4 linked regions of the Homo sapiens genome follow. The protein of the gene in region 2 interacts with the protein of the main gene of each other region in a biochemical or structural test. Each region holds a gene or a part of one and is shown on either strand. Other genes may lie near its edges.

Region 1 (7,044 bases), on a different chromosome or scaffold from region 2:
CTTGCTTTCCTGAAACACTCACTGCTGCAGCCTCTCACTAGACCTGGCTCCCTTCCTTGGCAGTGGGGTTTACCTGGGACTCAGTAGAGACCCAGGAAGTGGGGTCTAGGATCTAGGGAAGCAGGATGAGAAACTGAGAGGACCAGGGGGCATTCGTTATAATGACCTACAAGCAACCAAGTCTCTTGCTATTGCAACCCTAAAGCGTGCTGTGTCTACATTCAAAGATAACATGGGGACCTGTTTCCTAACCCCCTAAGCTTCCCAGGGGCCTGAAAGTGGGAGGTGAGGCCAAGGAATCTTTGCAATGATGGAAAAGACAGGTGGCAGTGTCTTGGCAGGGTTCAGGTTTCAGCTATTTTTTCTTCTGTGGTTCTTTTACTCCAGAAAGTCCAGTTCTTTAAGTTCTGAGAATAGAAAGACACATCCTTTGCAACTCCAGCAAGAAGCTTACACCCAGGATGGATGCTGTCAGCTCTTGTCATGGTTTTGTGTTGTGGGGTTGTCTGTTCTGTGTTTACCCGTAGGTGCCATCATTGATTCCCAAAAGCATCAAGATTACACTTTTTAGAATGGACAAATTAGAACATTGTCCTGAAGTGGAGGAAATGGGGAAGAAGTGGAGGCAAGGACCCTGCTCAGGCATCATTTCTTTGCTGAGCACAGCCATGCAGTCCCCACATGTGCCTGTGGTGAGCTTCCGGGGTAACAGACACACACAGCAGCGACTGAGCACCACCTTAACTCCTCCCGTCCCAGAGCTCTCATCCCAAAGATTGTCTCTCTGCATGGTCCAGGTCTTCTGCTCCAAAGAGCCGTAGCATTAGAAGCATGGGCCACAGCTTAAGTCAAAGGGAATTTTCCTTTGTATTATTAATATTTTAGAGTTTCTGAGTTGTTAAAGTCTTGTGGTTTTCTGTATCAGCAGCTTCTCTGTGTACTAGAGAAGGTAACTCTCTGTAGATATAGATTGATAGATAGTTAGATATATAAATATATATATATATATATATATTTGCCAAACTGCCTTACAGGGTTTTTTTTTCTTTCTTTTTTTTTCCTTTTTTCAGTGTTGTATGTGTAGCAGGCACTTGAGTTTATATGAAGATGTTCGCTTCAGTCAAGGATGGAAGGAGTTGTGAGGTGGAAGGGAGATGTGAGGCAGGGAGAGAGGAGGCAACAGAGTATGAATTCATGACCACCAGCCACCACTAGCCAAGAATGTCCAGGTAGATTGGGGTGGCCTTCCCCAAAGCATGGAGGATTTTGTAGATCTCCTTGATGTTCAACCGCTGCTGTGGTTCCCTCTGCCAGCACCCCAGCATGACATCGTACACCTCTTTGGGGCAGACTCGGGGCCGCTCCAAAACACGACCTTGGGTAATGCACTCAATGACCTGAAAGAGTGAGAAGAACAAGGAAGTTACACCCAAAGCTCAGCCTTGGTCCTGTGGCTCAGACTCGGCAAAAAGCAACAACTTCCCGGATTAGTTTCTATGCAGAGCCGAGGCTCTCACAAGCACAAGCTAAAGGCTAGGCTGTATACAGCACTGGTATATTTGTCTGTCTGGTGCACAGTGCAGTGAGCAGCAGTGGCTGGTGGAGTCCTCTGCTGCCCTTCATACTCCACTTCTTGGGCCAGGCCCACATTGACCATTGACTCCCCATACTCTCTTCTCTTTTACCTCACTTTTCTTCTCTAGTCCTGAATCTCATCAGGATGACTGAGCTGCATTCATTTTTCACTTGATAGTGGACATGGGCTTCTGACCTGTCCCTCCCCCTTTCATGAGCCTGCCTCACTTTGAAACTGCCATGAAGGAGCTCTGCACCCTCTGGCCCCTGCATGCCTATCTCCTCTTATCTCTCATTCCTGGCAGGCTCCCAGTTGCAGACTCTGTGCACGTCACCACACTTGCCTCTGAGTCATTACATAGGACCCTTTTGCAGCAAGACCCATCCTTCCCTGCTGCTTGCACTAAACCATGCTTCCAGTTTCTCTTAAAGTCCTTAACAATAGGACTAACTGCTTGATTCACCACTGCCTTCTGGGTGGCCAGTTCAAGTCTGTTAACCTCAGGATCTCAGCATGTCCATCTGTAAGATGGAATCAAATGTCTGCCTTAACCACCCCCAGGAGTGTTGTAAGGATGAAATGAGACCACGAAAAGGGACTGTATGGCCCAACATACTGAAGGAGAAGCCATAAGGAGGAGTAGGAAGAAAACAAGTAATGCATGCCTGGCCAACCCCAGCAGGCCACTTGAGACCCAAGTGTATAATTTGCAATGCATTTCCAATTCCTCAAAGATAATTCTTTACTGACACTGAATATATGCATTTTCAAGGCTTCATTGTCTAGTTTTTAGGTTGGTTTTCACTTCTCCCTAACTCTACCACTGCATAACTTTGGTCAAGTCACTGACCCCGAACTTCAGTTTCTGCATTTAAAGATTGGTCATAATGATAAAAATACAAAGAATAATCTCTAGCTCAGCAGCTGAACAAATATTATTTCCCTTCTCTGCCACCATTAGTCTGTATCTAATTAGGTAAAAGCACTGTCTTTTTTCTCCTTTGCATGTCCCTACACTGCTCAACAGTGCCTTGTTTCCAGTATTGTCTCATGTCACGCTGACTTTGGGAGGGCTGGTCAAACCATCACTGTGTCAGCATCCGCCTGGTTATATTCACCCTGGAGTTTACGATGGCCCCTTGGCTCATTTCTTTACCAGCCTGATAAGTCTCCAGCTGCTTATATTCCCCATTCATATTAGAGACCCATTTCCACCCTCCATTACCTTCACCTCCAGGAAAAGGGATTCAGTTCGAACTACAGTAGCAGCTGCTAATGCCAAGATCAAAGGCACCTGGGAGTGTCTCTTCTAATGTTGGACTATCCAGGTTTGTTGATTTCCATGGAGAAACCGATGATCAGAGACTGTCAGTATGTGGCTGCTATGGTGGGTGGAGTGGGGGAAGTGGCTGAGGGCAGAAAGCCTGCCTTTAAGGCCAATGCCTCTGTGAGTCTTAGAAGAAACTGCAAACACCCTGTTAGCTGCTATGAGCCAGCTCAAGAACAGATGCTGAGTCTTCTGTTAAGACCAATAGCAACCTCAGCCCAGAACCTCTGTTTACTGGGGCCACCAAACTACAAGGAGGCAGTGTTCAGGTGCATGCATGGTGTGTGTGTGTGTGTGTGTGTGTGTGTGTGTGTGTGTGTGTGTGTGTTCCTAACCCTTCCTCCCCTGCGAAAACAGTAACAATTTCTTAAACACCATAACAAATGGGTTCTAGTATATATACTTTCATTATTTTAAAAGATTGTTAAAATATTTTGTTCTACTTTGGGAAATGTGGTCAGGCCCCACTGAGCTTGTGAATCATGAGATAGTACACGTTTTAAAAAATAATTTCTTTTCAGTCTTTGTAATTCACTTAATCAAGTGGTCAAGACATAGGAGAGCAGAGACAAACATAGCTTCCAAGAAGAAAGACACTCTGTTGAATATTCAAATAAGATTTCAATACCAAAAGGGTCTTGTGTTTACATTTTCCCAGCAAACAGAAGACCATAAAAAGAATTGCGATGTTTCATAGGGATGTTTCATAGGTCGACTGGGTTGAAAGACTGAGCTCCTTACTGCCTACAAACTGCACTGAATTCCCTGGGGCAACATGGCATGGTCCATGCATCACTGAGAAGCATCTTGATGGGCTTTGGAGGCAGAGGAGTCCTAGGATTACAGCCCAGGCTTTGTCCCTGCTTTGGAGGCTCTTACCTGTGAGACCCTGGCCAGCCCATTTCAGTACCTCAAGCAGACCCCCTTCCTTTAACCTGAATCTCAACAGGTGTTTTTGCAAAAATTACTGAATTAATAGAGCTAACATGCTTAGAAAAGTGCCTACCACTAAATGTCAGCTACTATTAATTTATGTTTACTAGCATTTTTTATTATTGCAAATTACAATTATAAAAAATATAATGGCTATTTATTACTAAGTTTAACAGTAAACATACTAATAAACATAGTAAAAACATAGTAATAAAATAAACACGGTTTATTTTATTCCTAGACGTTCACACATGACTCTACCAGTTATAAAACTGGTCTTCCCAAATTGACCATCTGGTACATCCCTGGGCTTGGCATACCTAAAACCTTTGTGCACCCAGATTATGTGGGCATACTAAGTAGTGGGTGTTTCCACAAGATGGCACAATTGAAAAACTCATAGCTGTTCTGTTTTCCTTTTTTGTCATAGTGAAACATTTGTGATTTTTAAGGGTAGCAGATTTAACAGAGGCATGACTTGAGTCTCAATTTAGACCTCTGATTTCATGCTCTTTTGACAATTACACCACATTTCCTACAGTTCCATTTTTTTTTTCCTACTAAGAAGCTCTCTGCTCCCACTAATGCCTGCATTCACTCTGCTGGCTCTAAATCCCACCTAATGTCTTGTTCAGTAGGTCCAAGTTCTGGGCTGAGATAGCTCTTATGAGCCCTCCCCCAATCAAGATTCCTACGCACCCCCTTTTTACCTCCGTGTTTGAGAGTTGGAACCATGGCTGCTTTCCATAGGTGAAGATCTCCCAGAGGATCACCCCGAAGCTCCATACATCACTCTCTGTAGTGAACTTCCGGTACATGATGCTTTCAGGAGGCATCCAGCGAATGGGGAGCATGGTGTGTCCTCCCACCTAAAAGGGGTTGAGATAGAGGCACACAGAGTGACCAGATGGCCAGAATGAGTGTTATCTGTCTGCACTCTTCACACATAGATGCACTCTTGATGCATCCTATTCTAAGATAGTCACAGCTTTATGCAACTTCTATCAGAGGTGTGTGAAGATGCTGACTTTGGAGACCTACGATAAAGGAGACAGCTAGACTAGCAACTAGAGGTAACACCTGAGGGAAGGTAGGTTCCTTGGCACTCAGTGTGTAGAAAGATCAAGGTAATCTGAAGTGAGAGAGAAGGTTTCAGAATCTAGCACTACAGAAAAATCTAACCTTAAGAGCAAGTCCAGCAAGAAGTCAGCAGAATGACTAAGCCAGTCACCAAGGATCAGTATCTGCAAACATCAGGTTAGATTCTTGGCTGCAGTGGCACAGTATATTCCATGTGCATCTGATCTGCAGAACTTTAGCTTCTAACTGACAATCTCGAATCTCTCACCACAATTTAGGACTCAGTGTTTCAAGTGAAGGAGACAGAGACATTCCAAAAGCGTGGAAGACCACGTGCTAATAAGGTAGGAGATGGACAGAAAGAGAATTCACCACAGTTCTTAGTAAGATCTCAAAGGACAGTAGGGAGAGTCTTTAAAAATAGCCTAAGGAGGATATCAACCACCTGTGAATCTGCCAAACTGAAAGCCAAGGGGAAAAGGAAGTGACTGACAAGGATAAACACCCAGGGTACCCTTTACTGAGAAAAACATTAGGGAACTCCTCTTTGCCCAGCAGGCTAGAGATGTTAGCATAAGTGGGAGAAAATTCACAGCATGTGTGAAAACTCAGGAACTAACTGCATCATTAGTAAATAGATTTTCAGGAACTGAAACTTTTGCCTAATACATGGAACTCATTGTTAAAAAAACTACTTAATATTGAAAAAAGAGTTGTCTATTTATGTCCGGATGAGGTATTACTTAAAGTTCTCATTTCCTTCTTTCTTATTTATTTATTTATTTATTTATTTATTTTGAGACGGAGTCTCGCTTTGTCACCCAAGCTGGAGTGCAGTGGCGCGATCTCGGCTTACTGCCAGCTCCACCTCCCGGGTTCACGCCATTCTCCTGCCTCAGCCTCCCGAGTAGCTGGGACTACAGGTGCCCGCTGCCACACCCGGCTAATTTTTTGTATTTTTAGTAGAGACGGGGTTTCACTGTGTTAGTCAGGATGGTCTCGATCTTCTGACCTCGTGATCCGCCTGCCTCGGCCTCCCAAAGTGCTGGGATTACAGGCTTGAGCCACCGCGCCCGGCCTAAAGTTCTTATTTCTATGGGGGGTCAGTTAGAGAAATAATAACAATGAATAATTAAGAACGAATAAGTTGGGAGATGGGCAATCTTGTTTCCAAAAAGGGAAATCATGTTTGCCTTAACCACTTGAAGAATTTTAGGAGGTAAATTATAATACAAGTTTGCAGAGCAGTTCTTTTCTTTTCTTTCTTTTTTCTGAGACAGAGTTTCACTCCTGCTGCCCAGGCTGGAGTGCAGTGGCGCGATCTCCGCTCACTGCAACCTCCGCTTCCTGGGTTCAAGCGATTCCCCTGCCTTAGCCTCCTGAGTAGCTGGGATTATAGGCATGAAACACCATGCCTGGCTAATTTTTGTATTTTCAGTAGAGACGGGGTTTCACCGCATTGGTCAGGCTGGTCTCAAACTCCTGACCACAAGTTATACACCCACCTTGGCCTCCCAAAGTGCTGGGATTACAGGCGTGAGCCACTTTGCCTAGCCAGAAAAGTTATTTTCAACCTGGGACTTTCTAATCAGGATAGTTTTGTATCCAGTGTAAAGAAAACTGAAGATACTTCTTTCAGACAAGCAAAGACTCAGAAAGCTTACCACTCACATCCTTTCAGAAAATATAGGAGCCAAGCTAATTGAATACATATTCTAGAAAAACAGTAAAAATAACCCAAGCTATGCAATTATTGGAACATAACAAAAAATGCAGAGCAAATAAGCCACAAAAATGCAATTTAAATTTGAATAATGGTTGTTAATTTGGTAGTAAAAGTAATACAATTACTAATAAAGGCTTCCTGTAAAATAGAGACATAAAGTAAATAATAATACTAATAATGCTATTAGTACTACCACTGATACAACTAACATACTTATCTGGAATGAAACTTTCCAATAATTTCAACCATAAATGCATAGAAGAGTAGATATAGAAATAATTAAAAGCCTGATAAAGGCTGTATGTTATAGAAAGGAAAAAAGAAGCTTACAGTGATTAATTGTTGAGATTAACACTTTAAATTTAAATATGCTTACTAAAATTTTAAAGTAGCTTCTAGAAT
Region 2 (4,736 bases):
CCAACTCTGCTCACAGCTCTAGAAGGGGCTGGCAGATGAGGAGGGGTGGTCACAGGCTGAGAGTCGGCCATAAATAAATTTATCCTCTATGTATAGATGATTCATGATCCATTTCAGTTTGCTTCTGGGTAGTCATGCAATTATTTTGTTACAAATAGTTTTAAAAAATTCCTATGTGCCTAAAAAGATGAAACCACTTGCAAAAAGCAAAACAAAAACCAAAGCCAAAACAAAAAAATTCAACCCTTAAACAACCCCAAACCCCAAAACAACAAATGTGCTGCAAAGAAACTTCCAAAACTAAAATTGCCAGGGTCGTTGTTATTGTTCCAGGACCATAACACTGGAGCAAATCATAATTCTAATTTGCCAAACTAACAGCAGAGAATTTGATATAGAACTTGCTGGCCAGAGCTACAGGGTATCATTTTAAGTAAGTGCAGGCCATAACAGTTCTTTTAATTCATTAACCCAACATTAAATGTACCAGAAGAGGGATATAACTGTGTTTATACACAACTCTGACATCATCTGATTTTAACAAGTTTACTAAAACAACAGTCATGGCCTTGACAATACTGAATGCAAAATACTGGTGTACACAGATTTTACAGAGTGACTCCTGAGAGCCGGATCACAAAACAAGTTTTAACAGATGGGAGAGGCCTGAGGGAAGGCAAGCACACTGATTTTATTGAGAAAAAAGCTTATATACTGTAGGGTTGCTGAAGTTTAATAAATAAAGGTCAACTTATAATATATAAAAACAATATAAACATTTATATGCTACATGCATATCATATAATTTAAAGTAATAATTTATATATGGGGAGAGATGCCAATTCATGTTCTTCCGATTTTTCTCGACAAGGCACACACACAGGACGTGTCTATCCGTATCCACCGCCAGCCCACGAGTTTATTGTTCTCTGAAGTCAGTGCTCGGACGTAGGTTTGGGATGTTTTGCACTGAGAGTTCCAGTGTTTATCATCAATACCCCTGCAACCGTTTTTGACCGGCCTGGCTTCCTTACATCGCGTTTCATAAAAATATTGTTTGACGGGAGAGTTGCCCGTTTTGATCTCCCCCAGCACCGTGACCTGGTGTCCCCGAATGTCGATGGCCGATGACTTGTCGGTCACCCACAGACTCTCACTGTCACATACCGAGTACTCCCCTCGGTGACTCTTATGCTCCGCGTACCGTTTCCGCCGTGATGTTCTGTTCGCCACCACGGGGCTGCCCACGTAATCCTCCATGAGATACAAGGGCGGGGGCTCCAAGGGGGTGCTGTCGCTCAGCAGGACCCGCGGTGAGTTGTAGCGTCTCTGTTGTCGCAGCAGTTCGGTGTCCATTGCAATCACCGGCTGGAATGCTGACTTGGCGGGCCCTCCCCGCTCCGGCTCTCGGGGAGCCTCAGCTTTGGGCAGGGTGCTCTGGTAATTTTCCTTAACGTCCACCATCTGCTTGGAGAGCTTGTTTTTCAAAATATCTGCCTGGATCAGCTTAATAATGAGGGAATTGAGCGAGTCTTCTGGCAAACTCCTTTGATCCATGTTGTTACCTTGGATGCCACGGAGATAAGCGAGAAATATCACATAAAACAAGATGGACATCACCTTGTTCACCTGTAAGATCTGAAAAGGAAACACAGGTGTTAAGAGCAGGCTCTGGCAGCTGAGTCTGTGTTATTCTGGCACCAGCTACCTGAGGCTGAGTAGCCCTGTGAGGGCACGAGAGAGGGTACCGCCCCCCAGGTAAGCAAGGCAACTCCCCTCTGGACATTCTGAAGAGGTGATTTCTTTCCCCCACCCCCGGGAGATACTGCGAATGCACTCCAGGTCTGCCGACTCTGCTTTTTGCACGGGTTGTATTTACATTGGATGTCTGCTTTATCCTGCGGTCTCTGCTTGTGGGTGGACGATGTCCTACCGCTTCTTTAAACATCCCTTGAGCCTGCAAAGACGCATGGTTCACTCTACCTTGGCAAAGCATGAAAACTTCAAACCTGAGAATTGTAAACATGGAGTAACTTCCCTTCAGCAGCAGCAGCGGTGGCCTTGTAATTGTCTCAAGAAAGAGTTCGACTGCTCCCCAGCTGCAGCCCCTGGAACACACTGAGGCTGAGGACTGGTTCAGTTGCCCCCATATTGCAGTGTCAGATGTGGGGTCATCCCTGGCCAGGCCGCAGCTGGAACGGTCTATTCTCCTGCCCTTGGAAATGAACATGTAGGGCCACTACCCACTCCGCGAGAGGGCCTACGTTCCAGGGTGCTCTGCCGAGCTTTCTGATACATACGCATCACCAACTGATCTGCTCCATCCCCGGGGACGCTCTCCACAAAACGCAGCTCTGCCACAGCACTACTTGCAGAAGACAGAGATGCAGAATAACCACCTTACATAAATGGGCTGGACTTGCCCAGAATAGAAGAGTCATTGTTGATTCACTTGCCTCCTTTAGATTTTTAACATTTCTGCTACAAAATGTTCCTTTTAGTGCTTATGCTTCTTCTAATTCTACTATTTCCTTGTTGAAATGGCATTTCAACCCATCCACGCTCTCATTCTGTTGCCATAGTAGAAGCTTAACACCGGACTCCGGTGGCGTCCTGGTGGAATTACAGTGCTGATCTCAAGACACCTTCATTGCTAGTCTCTCCCTCACTAGAGCAAAGCCCAGATGTTCTGAGGGTAGCACTGGAAGGAGATGCTCCAGGTGGAGAGGGGCAGCTGAGCTAGTGATCCCCGAATTCGTCCACCTCCTTGAGATATTCACTCCTTAATCACCATCGCTGCCACCTCACTGGCTCCCAGGGGGGTACATCATTTCCTCTTTAAAGTTCTGTCCAAACATGGAAAATAAAAACTCTTCCCCTGGTTCACCTTTGGTATTTTCGGAAAGACTTTACTAAGTCCAGGGGGAAAATAGAGAGGAAATAAACAAAGCCGACACAAGAAACAGAAAAGCAGTCCTGCTAACCAGCACCTATGTCTGAGCCTGCCAGTGCTCACTCGCTCCCAGGACTCACAGACAGCCTCTTTCCCAGCTTGTCTGAAATACTGCCGGCTCACTTGTCCCTAGAGGTCAACAACAGTGAGGCACTCTGCTCATACTGCCTCCTCTTGCTGCTGTGATAAGGAGACCATCTTCTTTCCATGGGAACTAGTCTTTGGGAAAACTGACTCCTTCAAGGTCAAAGCCAAGAGAGGGATTCTAGCTTTGCTGCTCACCCTTAGAGATGACTCTAAGGAATTGTACTATCCTAGGAAAATGGTTCCTCTACAGCATAAGGAATCTCCCTCCTATTCTGCATACAAGTGACATTTTCTTCAATATTACAGGCCCAACAAAATGCAACTTGAACAATACAAAAAATATGGCATACAACTAGGATTACATTCTCTACTCCCCTCAAAAAGAATAATACAGCTGCAATAAAATCATTTAGGACTGAGAGTCTATTGAAAAACAATTTGTTAAACCTCCCAAAAGCTCAGCCACTGTAAGCTAAGAATACACAGGATATCCGCTCTTAAGGAAATAAATCAAGTATGGTTAGTGAGGGGAGGTCCCAGGTAGAATAAGAGTCAAGGTACAGATTAGTGAGGTAATGACCAGGATGAACTGAGAGGGAGAATGCTGGCTGATGCTGATGGATTGAGGAGGAAAAAGTAAGAGTCTTTATGGGTGGTGGCTGGAATATGGAACCAAAGTTTATTAGAAGTAGATAAGCCATATAAAGAGGCCATCTAATCTTATTCCTTCATCTTATAGATGAGGACAACCTAAATGCAGTTTAAAGAAGAGGAGAAAGGCCGGGTACGGTGGCTTATGCCTGTAATCCCAGCACTTTGGGAGGCCGAGGTGGGTGGATCACGAGGTCAGGAGATCGAGACCATCCTGGCTAACAAGGTGAAACCCCGTCTAAAAAAAAATACAAAAATTAGCAGGGCACGGTGGCAGCCTGTAGTCCCAGCTACTCGGGAGGCTGAGGCAGGAGAATGGTGTGAACCCGGGAGGCGGAGCTTACAGTGAGCCAACATCACGCCACTGCACTCCAGCCTGGGCGACAGAGCAAGACTCCAATTCAAAAAAAAAAAAAAAAAAAAAGAAGAGGAGAGACCCACAGGAAAGTGAGAGGGGTTCTCTGCACTCTGGCCCTCACCTCCCTTTTCCATGTGATGACTGGGCTCACAGGCCTCTTGCTCCAACCCCATTCACTACTCACTGCTGCTCAAATCACAACCCATGTGCACTGCCTCTCCTGTTGAAATTTCACCCGTTTTTCAGTGCCTGGTTCCAAAGCTGACCTTTCTACAATGCTCCCCCAAGATCCCAACGATAGCACCTGCCACTTCCTTGCAACCTCAGCCTGCTCTCCCAGTGGCTGACCATTTCTTTCTTACTTGCCATGATACTTTGTAATAAGTAGTGGGAGTAAGTCATCTGCAGGCTGGTGAGTGTTTCTAAACTCTTTAGAAGGCTGTCTTAAAGCCCTGCAGGCTTCCTGTGGACTCCATTTTAATAATCGACTTCTAGCTTTTCTCGTAGAGAGCAAGTCCAAGAATGTTGCTAACAGAACTCCCCAAAACACAGAGGTTTGCAGCTGGAAAGGACCCTAGACAACCTCCTCATTTATACATATAAGGGAACGGAGGCCTGCAGTTGTGGTGAAGTGAGCTGTCTAAGGTCAGACTGCTAAACAATGGCAGAGAGTGACGGGGGCATTTG
Region 3 (7,000 bases), on a different chromosome or scaffold from region 2:
CTGGTCCACAGGATAAGCCCAAGACTCAGGGGTCTCTCCTAGCTGAGTCCTGCAGCCTGACTGCATGAATGACCCATCACTCCCAAAGGGATGTTTGGGGACCAGATCATGACCATCAACTGGACAACCATACAGCGCTTGCTCATCCAGAACCACAGCCCCCACACTGTCCCTCTTACTGGTGAGGAAAGTGAGGTCAGAGAGGAAAGCTACTTGGCAAAGAAGGCTCAGCTCATAAGTGGCAGCTGATTCCAAACCCTGCTCTTCTCCCTGCCTTGCAAACACTGCCCCATCCTCCCGGGGGTGATCTCATCAGAGAAGGACTAGACCGAGGGAACATGTGACCATCACATCAGGGGCTGAGAGTAGGGGCTCTGCCTGGGGCCACATCACCCCTGGGCCATTCACTACCTGTGTGCCCTTGGGCAAGTCACTGAACCTCTCTAAGCCTTATCTGTGAAACAGGCACATTTCTCGAAGTTATTAAAATTATCAGCACAAATAGATAAATGTATCAGAGTTGTTCTGTCCGAAGCCAAAGAAATGAATTTTTTGTAACTTGCTTCAAGTGTAAATTGCAATATATGCTTGGAGGCCATAAAAAATAAATACATATTTATATTACTATACAAGATATATATGTACCAGCACATAGAACCATAATAAGAACAAATTGTAGAGCCAGGTGCAATGGTGTGCACCTGTAGTCCCAGCTACTGGGGAGGCTAAGGCGGGAGAATTGCTTGAGCCCAGGAATTTGAGGCTGCAGTGAGCTATTATTGCAACACCGTTGCACTCCAGCCTAGGCAACAGAGCAAGACCCCAACTCTAAAACAATAACAGTAATAAATACATGTTAAAAAATAAAAAATAATAAATTATAAAGTATATAACATAGCACCTGGAACATAGAAGGTGCCTGATAAATGTTCATTACTGTCGTTGTTACTGTCGTTATCTAAACTGCTACCCTTACAGGCCTGGCCTTTGTGTGCCACACACAAATGCACATACACCCTCTGCAAAGCCCACCCACCCCAAAGTTTTAGCTCACGGCCTTTGCCATCGCAACCTCCCTGACTACTGACACTTGTCCTTTGCAAGAGTCACCCCTATGTTCACACATCTGCCTCCTCTACCATCTCAGAGCTCCCTGGGGACGGGAATGTGCCTTCCTGATCTTTCTTGGTGTCTCCCCTTGGTTTGAAAGACAAGCAGGGATGTCTATAGGGAAGGGAAGACGGGGCCCAGAGCCAGGGGCCGGGGCCAGCGCTGAGGCCAGGTGCTGGTACCGGAGGAAGCGGTTGAGGTCCCCGTGCCGCATATACTCAAAGACCATGAGCAGGGGGCGGCCCTCGGTGCAGACGCCGAAGAAGCGCACGATGTGCTGGTGCTGCAGCATGGTGAGCAGCTCAGCCTCACGCTGGAAGTCCTGCCGAGCACTCTCGGACGCCTCCTTCAGTGCCTGGATGGAAGCGGCAGGGACAGGACTGAGTTGGGGGCCGAGCCCTCACTGCTGTTCACCCAGGGCAGCCCGCCCACCCCGGTATCCAGCCATGTCAGCCCTCTGCATCTCCCCCCACTCTGTCCTGATGTGATGGAGCTCCTGGGGGTGGGACCCAGGCCAGCAGTACCCCCCGGGGCAGGGTCTCACCTTGACAGCCACCAGCATCTTGTCCTGCTCAGGCAGGAGGTTGTGGCACTCAGCAAGGAAGACCTTCCCAAAGGCGCCCTCCCCCAGCTCCCACTTGAGCACGATGTCCCGGCGCTTGATGTGGTGAACACCTGAGGGGGCTTGCAGGGTCAGACGGTAGCCCCAGTCTTGGGAGGGCTGGGGTTGTAGCGGGGACTGTCTTGGCAGGGCTGTGTGCTGCACAAGGCTGCCCAGACGAGGGACTGCATGGGGGCTAAAATTCAACCTGCACCCCTTCAGCAAGCCCCATGTCATAGTGTGGGGCTGCACCTGCCCCGAGAGGACATGGTTTGGGCTAGCTGTGACTCTGGGCAGGGGATGCAGCTAAGAGCCAGGCTGGACTCAGCCTGAGAAGAATATGACAGGGCCTATGGCTGGAATAGGGCTGGGGAGGGGTGGGAGAAAGGGAGGGATCGTTCAGGCCTAGGGGCTTCTACACACACACACACACACACACACACACACACACACTCGTCCCTGCCCTTGACCCAGCATAGCCCCTCACAGGCATCACTGAAGTATTGTGGGTTCTCGATGATGTGGCCTTGGAGCCCAGAGCCTTTGCCCTCGGTGGGGGACAGGGAGCTGCCACCCAATGTCATGAAATGCAGGGACATGGCCAGCCCATCCTCTGGAGCCAGCACAGCCGGGCCTAGAGAGGAGACACAGCCGCATGGAGGGGTTTGCCCACACCTTGGCCCTGCCCACCCTTGCCTGCAGGATGCCTGGTCACCCCCACCTTGTAACTTGCAGGGGAGAGACTGAGAAGCTAGGGAGCGAGACAGCAGGCAGGGGGAAGGGGGCACCACCGCCTCTCCCTGTGCTGGCTCCTGTCCCACCCCTGGCCCCATGGGCACCAAAGAACTCCCCCTCCACCCCCACAGAGCCCAGACCTCCCAGACCCACTTAATGCTTGACTACAATCCAGCCACCAATTAGCAGCTGCCGCCTCTGAAACTACCCCAGCACCAGCCCGACACACGCTCCCACACACACTCACACTCACAAGCCTCACAGCCAGGCCTTCATTTATACCCCAAACACACTCACACGCCCTGGAACTCCCATGTGCACAGCCCCCCAGAGACAGAGTCAGGAAGAGCCAGTAGGAAACAAAGCCAGGAGAACAGACAGACAGACAGCCCTCTGCAGCCCCGACTCACGGTTGATCCCAAACTTGTTTCTCCGTCCACATTTGTTGAGCACAAGGAGCAGCGTAGAAAGGAAGAGGCAGGCAAAGACGGCCAGGCCCACAGCCACCGAGACCTGGTGGGGGACAGGGGTAGTTAGATCCAGGGGCTCCTCCTGTACTCTCAGAGCCTCCTGTAGTAAGCCATTTTTTCATCCTGCATGGGAGCCCGGAGCCAGGTCTCCAGACCTGCCTCATCCTCCCCTGGGGACCCCTGCAGTGGCTGTGCGGGTGGCCGTCAGAGCTCAGGCCAGATGGTAGTGATCTCCCTGCTCTGACCAGAAATGACATGCAGATGAGCCTCTACCCAGCCTCCCGGTCCCAAAGTCTGCACAAGCTTCTACTTCCTATCTCACCCCAAAAGGTGTTTCGTCCTTCTTCTCCACCGGGTCTCCAGATGTGCTGTTAGTGTCTGTAGGGACACAGGGCAGGAGGGGTGAGCCTTGACACACACTGTAGCCTCCAGTAACCCCCCAACCCTGGCCCCAGCTGGTCTCTCAGGGATCAGTTCAGCTGTACCCTCTGCCCCAGCCTCAGCTCCAGAGACCAGGCAGAACCTGCCCTCCACCTTGGGCTACTCACCCACCGGCGAGAAGGAGACTGCAGCAGGAGGGAGGAGAGAAAGCAGTCAGAGGGAGGAGAGAAAGCAGTCAGAGGGAGGAGGAAAGCAGTGAGTCCCCTGCCTACTCTGGGACTCATTCCTTCATGGGACGAGGGGGGATGGAGGTGGGCTGCTGGGCCTCAAGGAAGAAGATGCATGTGACCCTTTTCCAGCTGGGCCAGGATGCCCTGCTGCATGGCTGTCTCCTCAGCCAGCCGACAAGGACGGAATAGCTCAGGAGTTCAGGAGTCCTGGCTTGGGGAGAGGGTAAGGAGGCCAGAACAGCGGGACACCAGGACTCCAGACTCCTTTCTGTCCCGAACCAGGCACTCCAATTTCTGGGGTCAGGGCTATAGCAGGAAGTTGGCTGTAACCCAGGAGGAGCCCAGGAGTGGGGGCAGGGTTCAGGATGGCCCTCGCACCAGGGATGGGGTCCTCGGGGTTGAACTCGAAAGGGTTGTCCATGAAGGCAGCCATGATGGAGGCGGAGGCCTGGCCGAAGGGGTTGGCAGCCAGCAGCGTGTAGTTGCCGTTGTTGACGTGGGTGGGCTGGTTGAGGCGCAGACACCCGTGCCGCACGGTCTCATTGGCTGCCGGCTCCAGGAACTCAGTGAAGATGAAGCTGGTCTCATTGAGCACGGAGCCATTGAAGAGCCAGCGCAGAGACGGTGCCGGCTGCCCATCCACAGAGAAGGGGATGCACCAGTGGTGCATCTCCACCGCCGTGTGCAGCTGCACACTGGCCGGGACTGTGGGCCAGAAAGAGCAACAGCAGGAGGTCAGGGCGCAGCTGGAGGGAGCCTGGCACACACCCGACAAGTCCACGGGCAAAGCGAGTAGAACCCGAAATCAAAGGGCAGGCCTGGGAGAAACAGGTCAGCAGGCCCTGGGAAATTCACCAAGGAGAGATGTTTTGAAGAAAGTTGACAATACATTTTAAATAAATCAGGCAGCAGGCATATAAAATTTAGAGGCTTAAAGAACATAAGTGGTGGGCCATAAATAAGTCACAGCCCCACAGGAGTGGGGTATCAGCTTATGACAATTAAACATGGAGTCTTTGGGATAAGGAATCTAGAAGAAGTCAGTGTAACCAAGCTGAAGAAGATGGGTCAGGGGCCCTAACAATCAAACCAGCCAAAAATATATACAGTTAAATTTTTGGGGAAAAGCCAGGCACAGTGACTTGCTCCTGTAATCCCAGCTACTCAGGGGGCTGAGGTGGGAGGATCGCTTGAGGCCAGGAGTTCAAGGCTGCAGTGAGTTATGATCCCAAAGCATTCCAGCCTGGGCAACAGGCTGAGACCCCATCTCTTCAAACACACACACACACACACACACACACACACACACACACACACACTCTTTTTGAAAAAAGATATGCGTTTGAAATAGACCCAATCTGGGCCAGGCGCGGTGGCTCACGCCTGTAATTCCAATACTTTGGGAGGCCGAGGCGGGCGGATCACGAGGTCAGGAGATCGAGACCATCCTGGCTAACACGGTGAAACCCCGTCTCCACTAAAAAAATACAAAAAATTAGCTGGGCGTGGTGGAGGGCGCCTGTAGTCCCAGATACTCAGGAGGCTGAAGCAGGAGAATGACGTGAACCTGGGAGGCGGAGCTTGAAGTGAGCCGAGAGCGCGCCACTGCACTCCAGCCTGGGTGACAGAGCGAGACTCCATCTCAAAAAAAAAAAAAAGAAATAGACCCAATCTGGTAAAAGTAAAAGCCCCTCAATGATAGAAAAAAAGTGTATGTATGCATAAATATATGTATATATATATATAATATAGCATTCATACATAGGAATACTATTTAGCAATGAATTGCATGAGCTACATATAGCAACTCCCATTAACATGAATGAATCTTATAAATATAATGTTGAATGAAAGAAACCAGATACAAAATAATACACGCAGTATGATTCCATTTATATAATGTACAAGAACAGGCAAAACTAAATGATACCGATAGGAAAGCATATTTGAGAAAAATTATTTTTAAAAGCAAGGAAATGGTTATCCTGACAAAAGTCAACATGAGATGGGAGAGTGGGATGGGATTGCGAACAGGGAGAGGTGTTGGGTGGTGGGGGATCTTCCGTGATGCTGGTAAGAGTAATTATTGTTTAAAATATATATATTTTTTGCACATTTCTATGTATATTTCACAATAAAAGAAGAAAACTGATGTAAAGTAGAATATTTAAGATAATTTGTTGGCTGATCTAGAGAAATTAGGCAGCGAGCGTAAAGAGGAACTCAGGAGGAGAATTTCCTCTTTTGAAACTAGGATGCGGGGAGAAGGACCCGATGAGGGACGGGCATGAAAAAATACTTCGGAGCAGTGGGAACAGCCGGGCATCTGGCGTTGAGGGCCTCAGGTAGCAAGGCTCGGGCAGGGGGCCAGAAAGAAATCCATCTCCATCCCTCTGGCCTTGACAAGACCCCAGGACTTCCCCCAAAGGATCAGGTTTTCATGGGAATCTGGAAACAGCTGGGAGGGAGCAGCTGTGGAGACACACATCCCACCCTTTCTTCCAGCCCCCCACCCTACATCCTCTTTTGAGGGAAGAAGAGATGAGTAGGGGGTGGGTGCCGGAGCTGCCACTGAGACTCACAGGAGACGTTGACCTGAACAGAGACCTCTGCCCGGCCCACATCGTTCTCTGCCCAGCACGTCACGTTCTTCCTGTTGAGGTCACTGGTGACATTGGCCAGGGTCAGCCCCAGGGATGGCAGACCCCCAGATTTCTAGATCAGGAAAGAGAGGGGGGAATAAGAAGGAGCTTTAGCCAGCTTGGGGCTGGGGCTGAAGTCTTTGGAGAGCCCCTCTGGCTCCAGATGGAAAGGAGAGGAGGGCTGGGAGGGAAGAGAAGGGAGAGAGGGGTGGGAGAGAATGTAGCAGATAATGGCCTTCCTCCTTTAGGTTTGTTCGTTGACTATCTCCTGGATCACATTTTTTTTTTATTTTATGTTTTATTTTTGTAGCGACGGGGTCTTACTGTCCTGCCCAGGCTGGTCTTGAACAGGGCCTCAAGCAATCCTCTCACCTCGGCCTCCCAAAGTATTGGGATTACAGGCGTGAGCCACTGCGCCCAGCCTGGATCACGTATTTAATTATCTGAAAAATCTAAAATCTAACCAGTAGCCTCAAAATAGGCACAAAATATCCCAAACTGAAACTAAAACCAGCCATCTGAGCAGCTAAACAGATGTCACGCATCCCAAGTACCAAATTTGTACACAGCTCGTTGGAGACCCCACTAGGACCTCACTGCCTATTCATTCCTGTTTTACACACAGTTCTAACAAACTGAGTCTCAGCCCAAGGAAGATCAGAAACAAAGAGATGGTGCAAATAGCACAGCAGCAGTTAGAAACAACAGCAGCGGCATCGCCTCCTGCAGCAGATGAGGACCATGGGTGAGGTTAGACAGGCAAAGTGACTTGATTCTGAATCATCGTCAGGATTGAATCAGATCAAGTTTCTCTTCCTAGGAAACCGTGGA
Region 4 (7,044 bases), on a different chromosome or scaffold from region 2:
AACCATCCCTGAGCTGCAGCAGGAAGGGAGAGTTTTTTCTTGAAGTGGTGGGACTTGAGCTTGCCTTCATAAAGGAGACCTTTGGGAAGTAGGGAGAAAGGGAAGAAGATCAAACTTTCTAAGAGGCATGAGTAACTTGGCCCTGGGTAGGAAGCCACCTAAGCTTGCTGGCTGAACACAGAGTGTGTGTGGAGACTGGAGAAAGCAGAAAAGCAGAGTGGTCCATCCTAATGAATACAGGATGTCCAATGGGGAAAGGTTTGGTATGTGGCTTTAGGTAAACTACTTAAACTGACTGACTTTTAGGGGCATTACTTGCACTATCCAGGCAAGTCCATGTCTGCTGTAGAGCATAACTGTTGGGTTCAAGTGAGATAATTGAATAGAAATTCTTCGTAAATGTTGAAGACTGAGTGTTGATGGATGATTACGGTGGCACTGAGGTGGTGGGTGATTCCGGAACCACGGCGTTTTTGTGCTGGAAGTAACCAAGGGCTGCCCTAACTCTTCACATTTTACCAATAAAGACAGAAGCCAGACCTGAGGGTACCTGCTCAAGCTGGTTAATAGCAGCAGCACAAGAACTAGAACTCCAGTCTCTTGGGTTGAGGAAAATAAAAATTGCAAGTCCAAGTCAACTCTCCAGATAACTGGGTTTCTCATCTTGCACCAGGTCAACCTGGTGAGTTTAGTGAAGACCATGAGACCCCATTCAACTTAATTACTGGAGAGCCCCTGAGGCCCCACAGCATATCAGGCTGAGAGCAGGAATTCTGACTCTCAGTGTCATTCCTGGGATCACATTCCATCTCACAAATATTTAAGCAAGGGCATGAGGGCAAGTTGCCAAGTAGTACGATACAAAACAAATGTCTCATTGTGTTTGTTGCTGCACAGTGTGTTGTTTGTGTGGTCCAAAAACCATCAAGTGACTATAACTAGAATGTGACAGTAATTTGTAACAACAGTGACTTTTTTGGGGGGAGGGTCTACTTTTGTGACATGCTTCAAAATTCTGAGAAAGGGTTGCAAAAGAAATGTTCAGAAATGTACTAAATGGGCTTAGAAAACTTGTGAACCCTGTCTGAACTTTTATTAGATTGTCCCACCACTCACCCATTTGACATCTGAACAAGGAAAGCATTATTTATAACAGCATGCGTGAAATCCCAGAAGGGATTCTTGAAAGAATTAGAGTGAAAAATCTGCCCCAAAGAGACAGCAAGCAGAAAATAAATGATCAGATGAGAAAACATGTAAATCAAAACGTGAATCTTTTGTTCTCTCTCTCTTCTTTAAAGGAAACAGAAGCTTTTTCTTGGCTATTAGCAATTCAGGATAGAGAACCAGTATCAGGTTTTCTATCTTGCATTGCTAATGACCAAAAAAAGTGGGTGCTGCTATCAAAGGAGCCACTTGGTTAAGGCCAAATGAAGAGTTCAGGAGAGTGACATATGATGATTCTTCTTAATGTCTCCAGAATGGCTGCTTCTGGAGTAAGTAAGAGAGTGAAGGTTCCAGAGAAGAAAGCCACACCTCAAAAGCATTAATACTTTAAGACTTAGAAAACACTTTCACAAATGCCTGCTTGAGTAAATACCTCCCAACAACATTAGGAGGTATACATTATTACTTACATATAATTATTAAACCTTGGCCACAGAGAGATTTGGCAACTAGTCCAGGTTACCCCAGTAGGAAACAGGTAAGTGAGCGATTGGAAACCAGCTATTGTCATCCACTGCATTGCAGCTGTGAATATCCAGGTAGATATGGAAATCCTGAGATCTTGCTAGATTAACACACCTCAAAGTGTATTTTTAGCTGTCTTACCTGAGACATATATAAATGGTTATCTCTCCCACAAACATACATTCAAATAGTTTAATTTACCAAAGTTAAGTTTGTTCTTTCCTGCCAAACTCCTCACATACTTTAATAAGCCTCAGTCCCTGATGGATCTCCTTGAATTGAAGAGGGTTGCAATTTACAGTACATTTGACATATTTGATCTAGGAACTTCTGGGGTTGTTAAAATAACACAACTCAGACAGCATAACAAGAAGACCAGGTCCCAGTCTTTATTTTAAGATTCCTACTTCTCTAAGCCCACTTTGACCACTGGGGTTCTATTTTATCTAACGAGAAAGAACAGCAACACCAAAATGCACAGTGGAGCTGGTTGCACCATAGCACTATGCTGACATGAACAATGATGAAATGAGCTCTTCTTTATAGGGTAGGAAGAAGGTTAAAATGAGAGAGGTAAGGTTAAAAATAAGATGTATAGCAGAAGGGATTATTTTTCCCTTTGATTTCATCTTACCCATTTTTTTTTGCATGTTAGGTAAGCAAAACAATGCCATGTTTGTATCTTAAGAGGTTCCCATAAAATGCTTGCTGTGTGGATGAAAATGGTCTGTTAAAATGTGTAGACCTCTGTCCTATCTGCACCACCCAGGCAAGGTCACATAATTGCCAGGAGCAATTTCATCATCTGTAGGCTAGAGGTGCCACCAAGAGTCCTGAGTTCTTTATGGTTTGCTCACACAATTAAATGACACCAGACGTGTATAGATGTTTTCTAAACCATATGGTACATTCCAATTATGGCTTCAGAGAATGGCAAGGAGACTAGAGATGCTTTATTCTAGGGGTTAACAATCTTTGAAAATGTGTGTGCCAAAGTGCCCAGCCTTTTCTGGCACATAAACAGAAGGGTCATTTGCCCACCTCTGCAAGGTGGCAGCAGCATCCCTGCATGGCCCAAAGCAGTCCTCTCCTTGGCATTGCCATGTGGGCTGCCCAGACCTGGTGAGATCATTCTACCCTCATACCGCAAGTCCTCCAAAGCATCTGGAAACAACAGGTCCTCTGTGTATGTCAGCAGATTCCCTCTCCCAAAGTCCTGGGCACCTGGGGGTCACAGAGTTATAAACAGGGCAGATATTTGCCAAACCAGAAATGTGCTGAAATAGCTGCACCCATATTTACTACCCACATCCTTTCTGGTTGGTCAGTGTCTGTGCCACACTGATTGCAGTTTGAGTATCGACCCTGAGGGTGACTGTTGCCACCACCTTCAGACATCAAGTAAGACCATAAGAGAAGTCTCTGTCCATTGAACACTGATGACCTGTCACTGCTGAAGGAAGAGTGAGGAAATCTAAGGCCAATGGAAGCCAACTTAGCCTTTATGAGCTTTTTGTTTATTAAAAACTGAATAGTAGAGATGGGTCACCTGAGCCAGAAGTTTTTGTCCCTATTTGTCAAATTTGGATGCATCATACAGAGAAGAATGAAATAAAATATCCTCCCCCTTTTGTACTCTTGTGCTTTCTTTGGTGCTAAGAACATCACTGGGAATCACCAAGCATGTTAGACATCTCTGACATTTCAGCCTCTTGGGTTCTGGGGTAGGGGAACATTTTCCAGACACTATTAGTTTATTTTCTTCCTTTAATAAATACTAACTGGATATTGAGATTAGAATTGGGCAGAAACTCTATGCACCATTACTCTATAAACTCAGGACCCAGAGTTGTTAGAGAGGTCCAATTTTCTGCTGTAGGATAAGCCCACCTGCTCTCAGCTGTCAGGCATACTGTGTAGCATGGTGGTGCTGGGGGGTTACCAGGATGAAAAGCAGAACCTACCGCCACAGGACTACTGTGCAGAAATCTGTTCATGGGTTTGAAATCGGGCATCCCTGACAAACCTGGAAATGAGCTTCCTAACTTTCCTCCATGAAGTAGGAAGTCATATACAATTTTACTTTGTCAAAGAAAGTTTTCTTTGCCTGTACTAATGCGATTGCTATCTGATGCCCCAGTCTCAGTGTTTTCATTAAAATGGGCATTTAAAAAATGTATTTATCTATTGTGGTAAATAATCTAAGGAGCAGTGCCCTGTAATAGAGGAAAGTCCTGAGCTTAGAATCCAAAGACCTGAGTTTTGTTTCTGTAAGCAATCTGAATCTTATTGCCTTATTTGTAGAATGAGAATAATGATGCCTGACCTGCCCATCGCTGAGTGATGGTGGAGGGGTTTGAATCAGCATCATGCACACATAAGACCTGAAAGCAGAAGGAGACTCTGGCCTTGCCAAGGAAGTAGAGTCACTGGTTGGTCATTTTGGATGCAGAGTACCTCTTTGTTCTCCTGGTCAAAGTGATCTTGTTAATTAGAAGATTGAGTCATCCTCTTAGCAGAAAGTGTGTGTATGTGTGTGTAGTTTTATTTATCCAAGGTGATCATCTACCTAATCATCATCCCTGCTCCTATCTGGTTTTGAGAGAAAGAATTGCAGATAATATTTTTTTAAATGATTTTGATCACTCTTTGCCTTCTGTCTCTGTTGCTTGAGACTGTGAAGAAGTCATATATCCTTTATGTGTTTATAAACAATTAAAACTATAAAGTGCAAATAAGGAAAGCAAACAGTGTCCCCCAGCAGCTCCCTTCCACACCTGGTTTCGGGGTGACTGATGCCTCCCTGTTGATCCCTTTCTCCCCAGGTCGGTGGCCACACAATGCTGCCCATTCGCTGGATGCCTCCAGAGAGCATCATGTACAGGAAATTCACGACGGAAAGCGACGTCTGGAGCCTGGGGGTCGTGTTGTGGGAGATTTTCACCTATGGCAAACAGCCCTGGTACCAGCTGTCAAACAATGAGGTGTGCAATGGGTCTGGCCAAGACCCTCCAGAGGGCTGAGATCCCAGAGGCATCCATTGGCTGGGGCCTTGTTTTGGGTTGGAAGACCATGTCAGGACACGATCTTATGGGCTTTGTTGGTGGCAGCACTTCCCAAGTAGCCTGCTATGTTTCTAAATTTCATGGTCAAAGTATAATCACTCTGAGAAAGCAAAGCACAGTGCTCGCTGCTATGTCCTTGCTCCTCTGGTGATGGGACTGAGGAGTCACTTTATGCAGCTCATCTGATAAATTAATAGCAGACGTAGCATTCCAGAATCCATACAGTCCAGCAAGTTCTTTAGTATTGTTCCAATGAAGTTTCAAGATTCTTTCCTTTTTGAATATTTCACCAGAACATTAACTTCTAGTGAAAAACTCAAGCATTTTGTTTTTTCTATTCTTACGCTTGCAAATATTGTTTATATTTGAGGCACAGCATCTTGATCAGGCACCGTACATCTTTTTCAGATCCATTTCTATCTTTTTAATCCAGTTCCTTTATCCAATAGCCTGAGAGGTTTCCTGTCAGTCAGTGCCTTAACACCCAGGTGACTCAGGTTCCATCTCAGACCAATAAAAACCACAACATGTGGGAGCTCCAGTGTGAGGTTTGGGACCATTCCATATAAATTATTTTTCCACCAGTTTTGTGAAATCAGAGTGGCTTGGACAAATGGATATAAGCCAATCAAAATAAACACGATATAAACTAACCTATAATAATTGCTCTCTTCCTTCTGAGAAAACAAAACCAAGAGTGGGCTTCTTTTGTAAAAGCCCTCTCTTCTGCTGTTTTTTTGCACTGACATTTCTTCGATGTGCATTGCTTTTCCTCCTGTCTCATCCTATCTTTGATCTCCATCCAGGTGATAGAGTGTATCACTCAGGGCCGAGTCCTGCAGCGACCCCGCACGTGCCCCCAGGAGGTGTATGAGCTGATGCTGGGGTGCTGGCAGCGAGAGCCCCACATGAGGAAGAACATCAAGGGCATCCATACCCTCCTTCAGAACTTGGCCAAGGCATCTCCGGTCTACCTGGACATTCTAGGCTAGGGCCCTTTTCCCCAGACCGATCCTTCCCAACGTACTCCTCAGACGGGCTGAGAGGATGAACATCTTTTAACTGCCGCTGGAGGCCACCAAGCTGCTCTCCTTCACTCTGACAGTATTAACATCAAAGACTCCGAGAAGCTCTCGAGGGAAGCAGTGTGTACTTCTTCATCCATAGACACAGTATTGACTTCTTTTTGGCATTATCTCTTTCTCTCTTTCCATCTCCCTTGGTTGTTCCTTTTTCTTTTTTTAAATTTTCTTTTTCTTTTTTTTTTCGTCTTCCCTGCTTCACGATTCTTACCCTTTCTTTTGAATCAATCTGGCTTCTGCATTACTATTAACTCTGCATAGACAAAGGCCTTAACAAACGTAATTTGTTATATCAGCAGACACTCCAGTTTGCCCACCACAACTAACAATGCCTTGTTGTATTCCTGCCTTTGATGTGGATGAAAAAAAGGGAAAACAAATATTTCACTTAAACTTTGTCACTTCTGCTGTACAGATATCGAGAGTTTCTATGGATTCACTTCTATTTATTTATTATTATTACTGTTCTTATTGTTTTTGGATGGCTTAAGCCTGTGTATAAAAAAGAAAACTTGTGTTCAATCTGTGAAGCCTTTATCTATGGGAGATTAAAACCAGAGAGAAAGAAGATTTATTATGAACCGCAATATGGGAGGAACAAAGACAACCACTGGGATCAGCTGGTGTCAGTCCCTACTTAGGAAATACTCAGCAACTGTTAGCTGGGAAGAATGTATTCGGCACCTTCCCCTGAGGACCTTTCTGAGGAGTAAAAAGACTACTGGCCTCTGTGCCATGGATGATTCTTTTCCCATCACCAGAAATGATAGCGTGCAGTAGAGAGCAAAGATGGCTTCCGTGAGACACAAGATGGCGCATAGTGTGCTCGGACACAGTTTTGTCTTCGTAGGTTGTGATGATAGCACTGGTTTGTTTCTCAAGCGCTATCCACAGAACCTTTGTCAACTTCAGTTGAAAAGAGGTGGATTCATGTCCAGAGCTCATTTCGGGGTCAGGTGGGAAAGCCAAGAACTTGGAAAAGATAAGACAAGCTATAAATTCGGAGGCAAGTTTCTTTTACAATGAACTTTTCAGATCTCACTTCCCTCCGACCCCTAACTTCCATGCCCACCCGTCCTTTTAACTGTGCAAGCAAAATTGTGCATGGTCTTCGTCGATTAATACCTTGTGTGCAGACACTACTGCTCCAGACGTCGTTTCCCTGATAGGTAGAGCAGATCCATAAAAAGGTATGACTTATACAA

Evidence for each region.
Region 1: the proteins of NTF3 (region 2) and NTRK3 form a complex in vitro, tested with the Homo sapiens proteins (one study listed by BioGRID).
Region 3: the proteins of NTF3 (region 2) and NTRK1 form a complex in vitro, tested with the Homo sapiens proteins (one study listed by BioGRID).
Region 4: the proteins of NTF3 (region 2) and NTRK2 form a complex in vitro, tested with the Homo sapiens proteins (one study listed by BioGRID).

The regions. Positions count from the first base shown.
Region 1 is NC_000015.10:87,875,724-87,882,767, forward strand, and holds part of NTRK3 (NT-3 growth factor receptor isoform a precursor), read right to left. Parts: intron 4,706-7,044; coding exon 4,547-4,705; intron 1,398-4,546; coding exon 1,212-1,397; 3' UTR 1-1,211. UniProt on the Homo sapiens protein: Receptor tyrosine kinase involved in nervous system and probably heart development.
Region 2 is NC_000012.12:5,491,096-5,495,831, reverse strand, and holds the end of NTF3 (neurotrophin-3 isoform 1 preproprotein), read right to left. Parts: intron 1,701-4,736; exon of another isoform or gene 1,639-1,700; coding exon 844-1,638; 3' UTR 533-843; downstream 1-532. UniProt on the Homo sapiens protein: Seems to promote the survival of visceral and proprioceptive sensory neurons.
Region 3 is NC_000001.11:156,870,865-156,877,864, reverse strand, and holds part of NTRK1 (high affinity nerve growth factor receptor isoform 2 precursor), read right to left. Parts: intron 6,243-7,000; coding exon 6,110-6,242; intron 4,233-6,109; coding exon 3,906-4,232; intron 3,483-3,905; coding exon 3,465-3,482; intron 3,295-3,464; coding exon 3,239-3,294; intron 2,960-3,238; coding exon 2,857-2,959; intron 2,346-2,856; coding exon 2,199-2,345; intron 1,786-2,198; coding exon 1,655-1,785; intron 1,466-1,654; coding exon 1,293-1,465; intron 1-1,292. UniProt on the Homo sapiens protein: Receptor tyrosine kinase involved in the development and the maturation of the central and peripheral nervous systems through regulation of proliferation, differentiation and survival of sympathetic and nervous neurons.
Region 4 is NC_000009.12:85,015,689-85,022,732, forward strand, and holds part of NTRK2 (BDNF/NT-3 growth factors receptor isoform a precursor), read left to right. Parts: intron 1-4,517; coding exon 4,518-4,676; intron 4,677-5,563; coding exon 5,564-5,749; 3' UTR 5,750-7,044. UniProt on the Homo sapiens protein: Receptor tyrosine kinase involved in the development and the maturation of the central and the peripheral nervous systems through regulation of neuron survival, proliferation, migration, differentiation, and synapse formation and plasticity.